Linked DNA regions of Homo sapiens. The protein of the gene in region 1 purifies or fractionates together with the protein of each later gene. This does not show direct contact. Each region holds a gene or a part of one and is shown on either strand. Other genes may lie near its edges. The genes, in order: CCNG2, PPP2R5C and NME2.

Region 1 (3,512 bases):
TTACTGGTAAGTCAACATCCGTTGGATGTTTTCTGAAGTGGCTCTTTTTGAAGTGATAATAGATTGTAATTCAAAATAAAATTATTAATGAATTCTCCTTGTTTGGGATCACATCTTAATTTTTAATCTGTTAAAAGTTCTTGATGTATTTTAATGAGAAGACTTTAGGTGAGGCTACAGTGATTCCAGAGTGAGCCTTCTAACTGGCTAGCAGAAGTTCTCTAGGTTTGGCATCTGTGCCTTGGAGATACTGAAAGAGAATCTGTCATTTGACAATTGACCTCTTTGTGGGATGGACTCATTAAGTATGCTCTCAGAGACTGGTATATTACCAGAATGCCTATTAATTTTCAGTGAGAGGCAACAGGTATTAAGTAGAACAGAATGCTCAGGTTGGCAGATTAGAACGATCTTTCAGGAGACAAAGCAAGTTTTAATCAGTTGTTTGGTTAATAAGTATGGGGTGTTCGCTGTGATAGGGCCCCGCCAGCTTCTGGCTCTTGTGGACCTCAAAAGTATCAGGTGGTTTTGCAAGTGGTGGTCCTTTCCCCTGCCCCACCCCAATAGGTTCCCCATCTGTCTAGTTTGATTTTTGTAGACCTTTGTTTTCTCTAGTTAGAAAATCAGGTACACTGAATATGGTTTTCATGTAACACCTCTTCTCTGGAGATAGGGGTATGTTTTCCTACCCTTCTAGTGGAGAATCCTACTTGAGGATGACCTTTCCTCTCTTACTAAATAATATTAGTAAATAGTGGGCAATATATTCTGCTTTCAGATTTTGATTTGTTGAGATGTAAAAGTTGTTTGGGGCTTACCAAATCTCAAGACTCTCTTTAGCTCCTGCAGGATTGTATTGCTTTTCTTACTGGATATTTTTCCTGGGTAAGCATCTTTGTGGCTTCATCTCTTCCCCCTGTGGTTTTCAGTGTATTTAGTCGAGACCTCTCTGCTGAGCTTGCAACCTGTTTATTCACATGGCCTGCCATGCCACTTGGAGGTTTCTGATTACTCCCAAACCTGCTGGTTCTTTATGTCTTTCTCAGCGAATAATTCCATCTATTCATGTTGGAAACTTAGGTGATATGCTCATCTCCTTTTGCCTGTTTATGGAGGTCACCAGCCTCTATCATTTGTATGATTTCGTTTACACTGTTTATATCTCTCTGTCCCCCCTTTTTCTGCCATTGGCATGGTTTAGACCTGTACTCTTTATCAGCAGAGGTACTGTAATATATTTGTGATCCCTCAGCTTCCAGGCTTACTCCTGGTCTCTGCCTTCCTATCTACATATCCTTTTAAAATAAAATTTTAACTATCTCCTGAAAAATTGTTGAGTAGGTCACGCACAATCAGGAGAAAAATCTATTCATGACATACAAGTCTCTGTCTAATCTGAACACTGCACCTGTCTCTGGCCTTTTTTTCTTGTCATTTCCTAGACCTTAAAAAATGTGTATTGAGAAAGAACTCTGTTAGCTATACAGAAGATGAACTGGGCAATATAGAGTAGCAGCATGGAGACCAGTCTGACTGAACTAAGGCAGTGGAAGTGTGGATGAGGAAGAGAGGTGAAAATTGAGAAGCGCTATCCTTTCTCTTTGGGCATTATTAGGAGGCTCACAGACAAGTCCAGGAGCCTGGTTATACCCTCCTGTGCCATTCAACCAGGTGGCTTTCCCATGACTGTGATGAATAAAATTGAGAAGCCCCTGCCCTTTTCAGAGCAGAGGGTGAGGAGAAAGCTACCATTTTGTCCTCATCCTTACCCCCGTTGACTTGGCGAGAGATTTGACCTTTCAGGTTTTGATCCTGTCATTTTCTAGGATGTGGTGCACGCACTTTGCTGTTGCGCATGGTGAAGTATTGTGCCTAGGTCCTGGGTCTTCATCTGTTTGGCTCTGCTACTGTTTCCTCCTCCCAGGAAGTGTGGTTAGACAAATAATGTGTTTTAATTACCTGTCACACTCAGGATTAATACATACTCAGGTTAACTGTAGAGAGGCATTGGCTTCAGAACACTCCTCGTGACAATTTTAACCATTTTCTTTGTCTAGAGTCTGCCTTTTTCTTTTTTACAATTTCTTTTATTTCAACACTAGGTTTCAATATGGTGTTCCTGCTACCTCCCACCTCCCTCCTCCCTCATCACACATGCAAATTGTCAGCTTATTGAGACAACCCACTTAGATTCATATATGGACAAGGACAAGGTATTTTGCATTTGTTACTGGAATTCAGTTTTCCTAACTATTTACTACCAGAAATGGTCAATAACTTACTTTGTGTTTAGCAAATCAAATTGTGTGATAGATAGTTTCCCAGTATGATGGCCAGTCAGTCTTTCCATCCCTGTGCCTACATGCTGCTCTTCCCGTCCACAAGTGGAGTCTGTTTCTCTTGAGTTTTGGCTGGCCTTATGAATGGCTTTGCTTACTGAAGTGCAGCAGAAGAAATTTAGTATATGTCCAAGCCTAGGCTTTAAGAGACTGGCAGCTTTCCTTTTATCCTTTTTGGAAGCTAGCCACCATGCTGCAAAGAAGCTCAGCTGGATTACTGAAAGATGAGAGGCCATGTGGAGAGAGACTCTTGAGGATGAGAGATTATCTTGGATGTTCCAGCCTTAAGCTCCCAGCTGAATGTGGGTGTATCCTCAGCTACACCACAGAAAACAGAGGAACTACTCAGTCGATCCCAATCAACCCACAGACTCACTAGAAATAACAAATTATTGTTTTAAGCCACGAGGTTTTGGGGGAGGGTTGTTAAACAGTAATAGATAAGTGAGACAGATTGCTTGTTATTTATGGTCAAATGGTGATTATCTCTGGTGAGATTACAGGTGATGTTTTTTTTAAGTTATGCCTATCTGTAGTTTCCTTTTTTTCCTAAAATTGATTTGAATTATTAGTGTATTAACAGAATAAAGAATGAACTTTAAAACACACACGCTGGTTATATGCTTCCTCTAATTAAAATTCATGGCTCTCACCACACCTTAGCATCAAGTTCCAACTTCGTACTGCGGCTTAGAAGACCCAGCTTGATTTGTTCCCGGCTCCCTTTTCAGCCTTGTTTCATGGCATCCACATCCACGTATTTCCCAGGCCCACTACATCTGAGATGAGTCAGAGACCCCTCTTAGGGGCCTGTTCCCTACTCCCAAACATGGAAATTAAAAAAAAAATCGTGAGTTCTTCCAAGAGAAATTCCAGGCATCTGGCTAGCCCTGAGAAGTAAGAGAGAAATGTGATAAGCAACAAATAGCGGCTCAAAACAATAGCCAAGTAAGTTAGAATCATGGGATGTTTGGTTCCCCTATAGAAACTACAGATAACATCTTAATATATATCCCTGAGTTGTTTTCCAGAAACCTGAACCCCTAGCAAATGGATGCGCTAGCACATAGACCTCAGATAAGAGGGAGCTGAGGACTGAACTCTGACCACCGTTCTTTGTTCTAAATTTCTTCCTGAGAGGCCTGGAGGAGGTCATGCCCATGAGCCAGAGAT
Region 2 (2,927 bases), on another chromosome or scaffold:
AGCCTCGTCCACGTGCCCCCAGCTGCAGAGTGACGGCGTCTGCACCTCTGTCAGTGCGAAGGGAGCACAGACGCCACTGGGTAGAGAAGGAAGCTAAGCACAGAGCTTGCCCTCCCACGCCAGCCGGCGTGCTGACCACACGCAGCTATGGAGAGGTGAGGTTATAACCACGACACGAGCAGATAACACTTTAGTCCTGTTTCCATGGGCTTCTCGCAAGAGCATCAGCGAGGATAATGATCTCTCCACTGAGGAGGAGGTGGGCGAACTAGGATCCTAAATTCATACTTTCAGCAATTCCCTATTTTCAAGACTTTCATTTCTATAAATTGTATTGATTCACCTTTTCTTACTCAAAAAAAGCCCCAAAACCCAAACCAAACCAAGAGGCGGTCTATAAAAAGTCACACTGCCTTTTCCACTAAGTAAGTAAAAAAATCAGTGGATAGACTTAGCTTTGAACAGCTGTGGCTAGCATCTGGCGCAGCCAGCGCTCCAGGCGGGCTGGATGGAGATGGCCAGCCCCTCTGCAGTCAGCGTCCCTGTGTGTGGGCGGCCCTGACCTAACGGGAACCCGATAACGTCAGAGCCAGCTTGCTCAACACCATGGCTAAATTTAGTTTCATGATGAGCAATAAAATTCACATGTTCTTTATTTAGTCCATATGATACACCGTTTTTTAGAGTTTTTGAAAATTAGATAAAAGAGCATATTAAATGGCAAGTGTATGAAGTTTCTCTTCATAAACAATGTCAAAACAAAAAGTTTTGAATTACAAAATGTTAAAAAATATGTCGGTACTTAACATTTCACTAATGCATAAAGTTACAGATATTTTCTAAAGAAAAATAATTGTGCCACTTACCTATATTTGCTGTTTCTATGAACTTTTTTATTCTGTACATAGGACATTTTGTACAAAATATGAAGTCTACATTTTTATTACTTATTACCATAAAACAAAGATACAATGTATGTACAATATTAAAAGGAAGCCATACTAAAGCCACACTAAAAAGACACTTGGAATAGTGACATTTCTGATGTACAGATACATTTTGGAAAGAGTGAAGATGCCAAACGCAGAACTTTATGAAGAAAAACAGTCACCGGTTTATTTTCAATGTAGTACTTTTGAAATCAGTTTGGTACAGAATAAACAGTCTCTATACAATGATATGTAAGCTGACAATTAGCACAGGAGTCCGAGTACTAACTAGGGAAACTTTAGGAGGCCAAAATATTAAGTAATACTCTTGCCAAAGAAAATTAGTTTCTCTGAAAACTTTTATTTTTCTTTTTGGTGAGTGTTTGTCTTCAATAAAGAGCAGAAAGAAAACCTAGACAAAAAGATGTTCTTACACACTGAGCTTTACACAGTCACCCAAACATTGATATTTTGCTTTTTCCCGAGGGCAAAAAGAGAGTCTTCCCAGAAACCTCTCTCACAAACATACTGAACATCCAAAATCAAGGATATTTGAGAATCTATCAGCTAAAGACGGAAGTTCAAACAATGGTATATCAAAATACATAAGACGCTGCTTTATACAATAAAAAGCACCCTTTTTCCCTCAAAAGGAGAAGGCATCTAAACTGTTTTTTTTAATGATAGTTTTCATAATGGTAAAATGGAGAGATACTTGTCAAGTTTCTCAGGAAGTATTCATCTCACAAAGCGGACTTGTCCACTTTTAGCTGGGGCAATCTTCGCATTTCATACCTGCACTTGCTCTTACCACAAGAAGTCCCCTCCCCCCAGGTGATTTTCCTCCAAGACACGAGGACAGAAGCATTGCCAGTGGCTTGAAGTGACAGCAGTGGGCAGGAGGTACCAGAGCTGCACAAGGAGCAGTGTCTGCTTCTCACTATCTTTGAAAGGATACCCGAGACCTCGATGAAAAAACAGATCCTAAAATAAGCCACATTTTGTCTTTTATGCCTCAAGACACTTAACATTAAGTTATATAATCTTATGCCAGAGATGAAAGAAACTAGATCACGTGTTTAGAATAGCAGTACACATCTCAAGTAGCTTTCAAGCAGGATAAATAAGTCAAAATACTGGCCACCCTGAGAGAAATAAAGAATAGACAAAGCACTAAGTTTAAAGATTTTTCTCCTTGTGCTATTCCATCTAAAACAAAAGCTCAGTACATGCAAGGAACTCTGTGGAATATATAGCAGCATGTGAAGACCGATGAAAACTCAGACACTGTATTTTCCTTACAAGGTGTTGATAACGTGAGCTCTTTTCAACAGAAAGAGCTCCACTAAACGTCATCCTCGCTGGTGCCTCCTCCAAGCTCTCAGAACAGCACTGCAGCCTTCAGTGAAGGCAGCGGCAGTGCCGGCCCCGTGCAATGCTGTTGTGTTACTTTATGCTTAAAGGCGCTGCAGTTTGCATTAGGCTAAGAACTGGCTTAACTCAAAATGATTTTGCTCTAACTTTCCATAAAATGTGGAATTCTTAGAGACTATAATTTTATTAATTCAAGAGCCTTGTTGAAGGGCAACAATGTTTAAGTTGACGGAAACGAAATCTGCAAATAAAAATATTAACACATAATTTTAAAACTCCAATTTCTGTCAAGGTAGACAGAGCAAGCTCTTTTAAGATAAATTTCAGAGCAATCTCTTTTAAAATAAATCTCTTCTACAGGCTTACTCCTGGAATCCTGGAGTACCACAGACTTGGAAATATGGCTTTAGGTACACACAAGAGAAGGAGACACGGTGTTCATGTCACTCATCAAAGTGAAGAGACCCCTTAGAAAATACCAGCGGCTGAGGATTGTCATTTGCCCAGTACGTTGCGTGAGAACTCGAAAGCAAAGAGCCATTTCACTGAGATTGAAAAACAAACAAAACGAGAACTGCTGGCGTAACAATCACGTGGAAACCATTTCAAAGGCTGTAAAGTCTT
Region 3 (2,992 bases), on another chromosome or scaffold:
GCCTGGGCAACAGAACAAGACTCTGTCTCAAAAAAAAAAAAAAAAAAAATTGGAGAGAGTAAAATAGGGAGGCAGTGAAATTGTTGAGAAAGTAGATCTATTTCCTGTTCACCTTTTTCTTCCTTCTGCTGTTCCCTGGAATCCTTACCCTAGCATGTTAGTCTTTCTTTTCCCTCTTCTAGCAGTCTTCTGGGATGCCCTTCCCACTGATCCTATTCCAGACTGGCCACTTTCTCCTTTCTTCACCAGTTCTTCTGTGTTGATGGCTGCATAAGGATTCTGCAACATTGTTTATCTCTGTCTCAGCTAAACTGGGAAGTCCCCAAGTTGGACAGACTTTTCTTTGAATCCTAGCAATACGTTTGGAATGCAGTTTTTATATAGGCCCCTACTCTCTGCTGGGGTTAGCTGATAATCATGTCACTGATCGGTCTCATTGATGTGTCGTGTCAGGTAGGAGTAAATGTTAGACCCTACCTGTCCTGAGTGGCAGGTCTGATTATAAATCCATTTTCACACTTTCGAGGTCTGGGAGGGGCTGAACGTGGTGAAGACAGGCCGAGTGATGCTTGGGGAGACCAATCCAGCAGATTCAAAGCCAGGCACCATTCGTGGGGACTTCTGCATTCAGGTTGGCAGGTAAGTCCGGGGACAGGAGGGTGGATGACTTTTATGCAACACCATTTAAAGCAGACGTCATGGCGTATCCTACTTTCAGAAGAATCTGTGCCCTTTTTTTTTTTTTTTTTTCTTGAGACGGAGTCTCCTTCTGCCTAGCTGGAGTGCAGTGGTGCCATCTCTGCTCACTGTAACCTTCACCTCCCGGGTTCAAGCGATCCTCCTGCCGCAGCCTCCCAAATAGCTGGGATTACAGGTGCACACTGCCACGCCCGGCTAATTTTTGTATTTTTAGTAGAGATGGTTTCACCACGTTGGCCAGGCTAGTTTCAAACTCCTGACCTCAGGTGATCCGCCTGCCTCGGCCCCCCAAGGTGCTGGGATTACAGACATGAGCCACCGCACTTGGCCTGAACTTTTAGTTGGTGATTATCATTGTATAAAAACTTTCAGGCTGGGTATATCATTGTATAAAAGCTTTCAGGCCAGGGGTTTACGCCTGTAATCCCAGCACTTTGGGAGGCCGAGATGGGTGGATCACCTGAAGTCAGGAGTTTGAGACCAGCCTGGAGCCTGGCCAACATGAACCCCGTCTCTACTAAAAGTAAAAAATTAGGGCATGGTGGTGCATGCCTGTAATCCTAGCTACTCAGGAGGCTGAGACAGAAGAATCGCTTGAACCTGGGAGGTGGAGGCTGCATTGAGCTAAGATCACGCCACTGCACTCCAGCCTGGGCAACAAGAACAAAACTCCGTCTCAAAAAAAAAAAAAAAAAAGCTTTCACACATAGCTTCTTCCCTAGGTTACTTAATTTTAAGCAAGACAACAAGGGAGCCATAAGTGGTAATTCCTGTGTAGTACAGCAAAAAATGCTAGGTGTGGAGAAGGGAAGCATTCTAGCCACATCCATGAGTACTTTGTCCATGGGTGTGTCACTTAACCTTTTGATTCCCTCACCTGTACACAGTCTGTTCAAAACCTTTACAAAGTTGTGAGGTTGAAGTGGGATAAAGGGATTTTTATTAATAAGCAGTGTTATGTCATGGTTGGGCTTTGCAAATCAGTGTTATAAGAAAATGCAGCAGAGCTGGCCTATGATAATGAACACATCATATCTAGTTGGGATGTTGATCTGCAGTGGGTTTGAGTATCACTGTATTTTCCAAAATTTGCGGAGGAGTGTTTTATGTCTTCGGCAATCTTGGGGTACAAGCACTCTTTTGATGGGGAGGCCAGACTTGGAAGCATAATACAGTTGAAACAAGGAATGTTTTAAATCAAGCACTTTTACAGTTGTATAGCTGCTTTTAAAAGGAAATGCTTTGGGGGTATAAATTGGTCTGTTGCTTCAAGTGGCAATTTGGCTGAAAGAGTCTGGAGTGCTGTCCATTGCGGTACCCATTAAACAGACTTTTGCACTTTAAAACATGGCAACTTGTAATTGTTTTCTTTCTTAGGAACATCATTCATGGCAGTGATTCAGTAAAAAGTGCTGAAAAAGAAATCAGCCTATGGTTTAAGCCTGAAGAACTGGTTGACTACAAGTCTTGTGCTCATGACTGGGTCTATGAATAAGAGGTGGACACAACAGCAGTCTCCTTCAGCACGGCGTGGTGTGTCCCTGGACACAGCTCTTCATTCCATTGACTTAGAGGCAACAGGATTGATCATTCTTTTATAGAGCATATTTGCCAATAAAGCTTTTGGAAGCCGGACACTGTCTCCTTGTGCTTATTTGATACTGAGCTGAAAGAAGTGACTTGGTTCTCTGGCTATAGTAGCATTATGTACATCTCAATCCTGCTTGTCAAAGAATGATCTGATCCTGACGGAGTTTCGCTCTTGTTGCCCAGGCTGGAGTGCAATGGCGCGATCTCAGCTCACCACAACCTCTGCCTCCCGGGTTCAAGCGATTCTCCTGTCTCAGCCTCCTGAGTAGCTGGGATTACAGGCATGTGCCACCACGCCCTGCTAATTTTGTATTTTTAATAGAGACGGGGTTTCTCCATGTTGGTCAGGCTGGTCTTGTACTCCCAATCTCAGGTGATCTGCCCGTCTTGGCCTCCCAAAGTGCTGGGATTACAGGTGTGAACCACCGCGCCCGGCCTATTTATTTATTTATTTGAGACAGAGTCTCGCTTTGTCGCCCAGGCTGGAGTGCAGTGGCGTGATCTCAGCTCACTGAAACCTCCACCTTCTGGGCTCAAGCCTAGTTGGTCAAGTGGTTCTTGTGCCTCAGCCTCCCGAGTAGTTGGGATTACAGGTGTTTGAGCCGCTGCACCTGGCCACTTGTAAGAAAGATTTGTTGAAACTTGGAGTGAAACATACAGACTAGGGAAATACTCTAGATTTATGTATCTGCTGATTACAAAT

Evidence for each region.
Region 2: the proteins of CCNG2 (region 1) and PPP2R5C purify together in Homo sapiens (affinity purification with mass spectrometry; 3 studies listed by BioGRID and IntAct, with this or other methods). This does not show direct contact.
Region 3: the proteins of CCNG2 (region 1) and NME2 purify together in Homo sapiens (affinity purification with mass spectrometry, with the first as the bait; 2 studies listed by BioGRID). This does not show direct contact.

The regions. Positions count from the first base shown.
Region 1 is NC_000004.12:77,167,114-77,170,625, forward strand, and holds the end of CCNG2 (cyclin-G2), read left to right. Parts: 3' UTR 1-2,947; downstream 2,948-3,512. UniProt on the Homo sapiens protein: May play a role in growth regulation and in negative regulation of cell cycle progression.
Region 2 is NC_000014.9:101,925,686-101,928,612, reverse strand, and holds the end of PPP2R5C (serine/threonine-protein phosphatase 2A 56 kDa regulatory subunit gamma isoform), read right to left. Parts: 3' UTR 636-2,927; downstream 1-635.
Region 3 is NC_000017.11:51,169,411-51,172,402, forward strand, and holds the end of NME2 (nucleoside diphosphate kinase B), read left to right. Parts: intron 1-526; coding exon 527-639; intron 640-2,076; coding exon 2,077-2,194; 3' UTR 2,195-2,334; downstream 2,335-2,992. Other genes in the region: NME1-NME2 protein, read left to right, coding at 527-639, 2,077-2,194. UniProt on the Homo sapiens protein: Major role in the synthesis of nucleoside triphosphates other than ATP. The ATP gamma phosphate is transferred to the NDP beta phosphate via a ping-pong mechanism, using a phosphorylated active-site intermediate.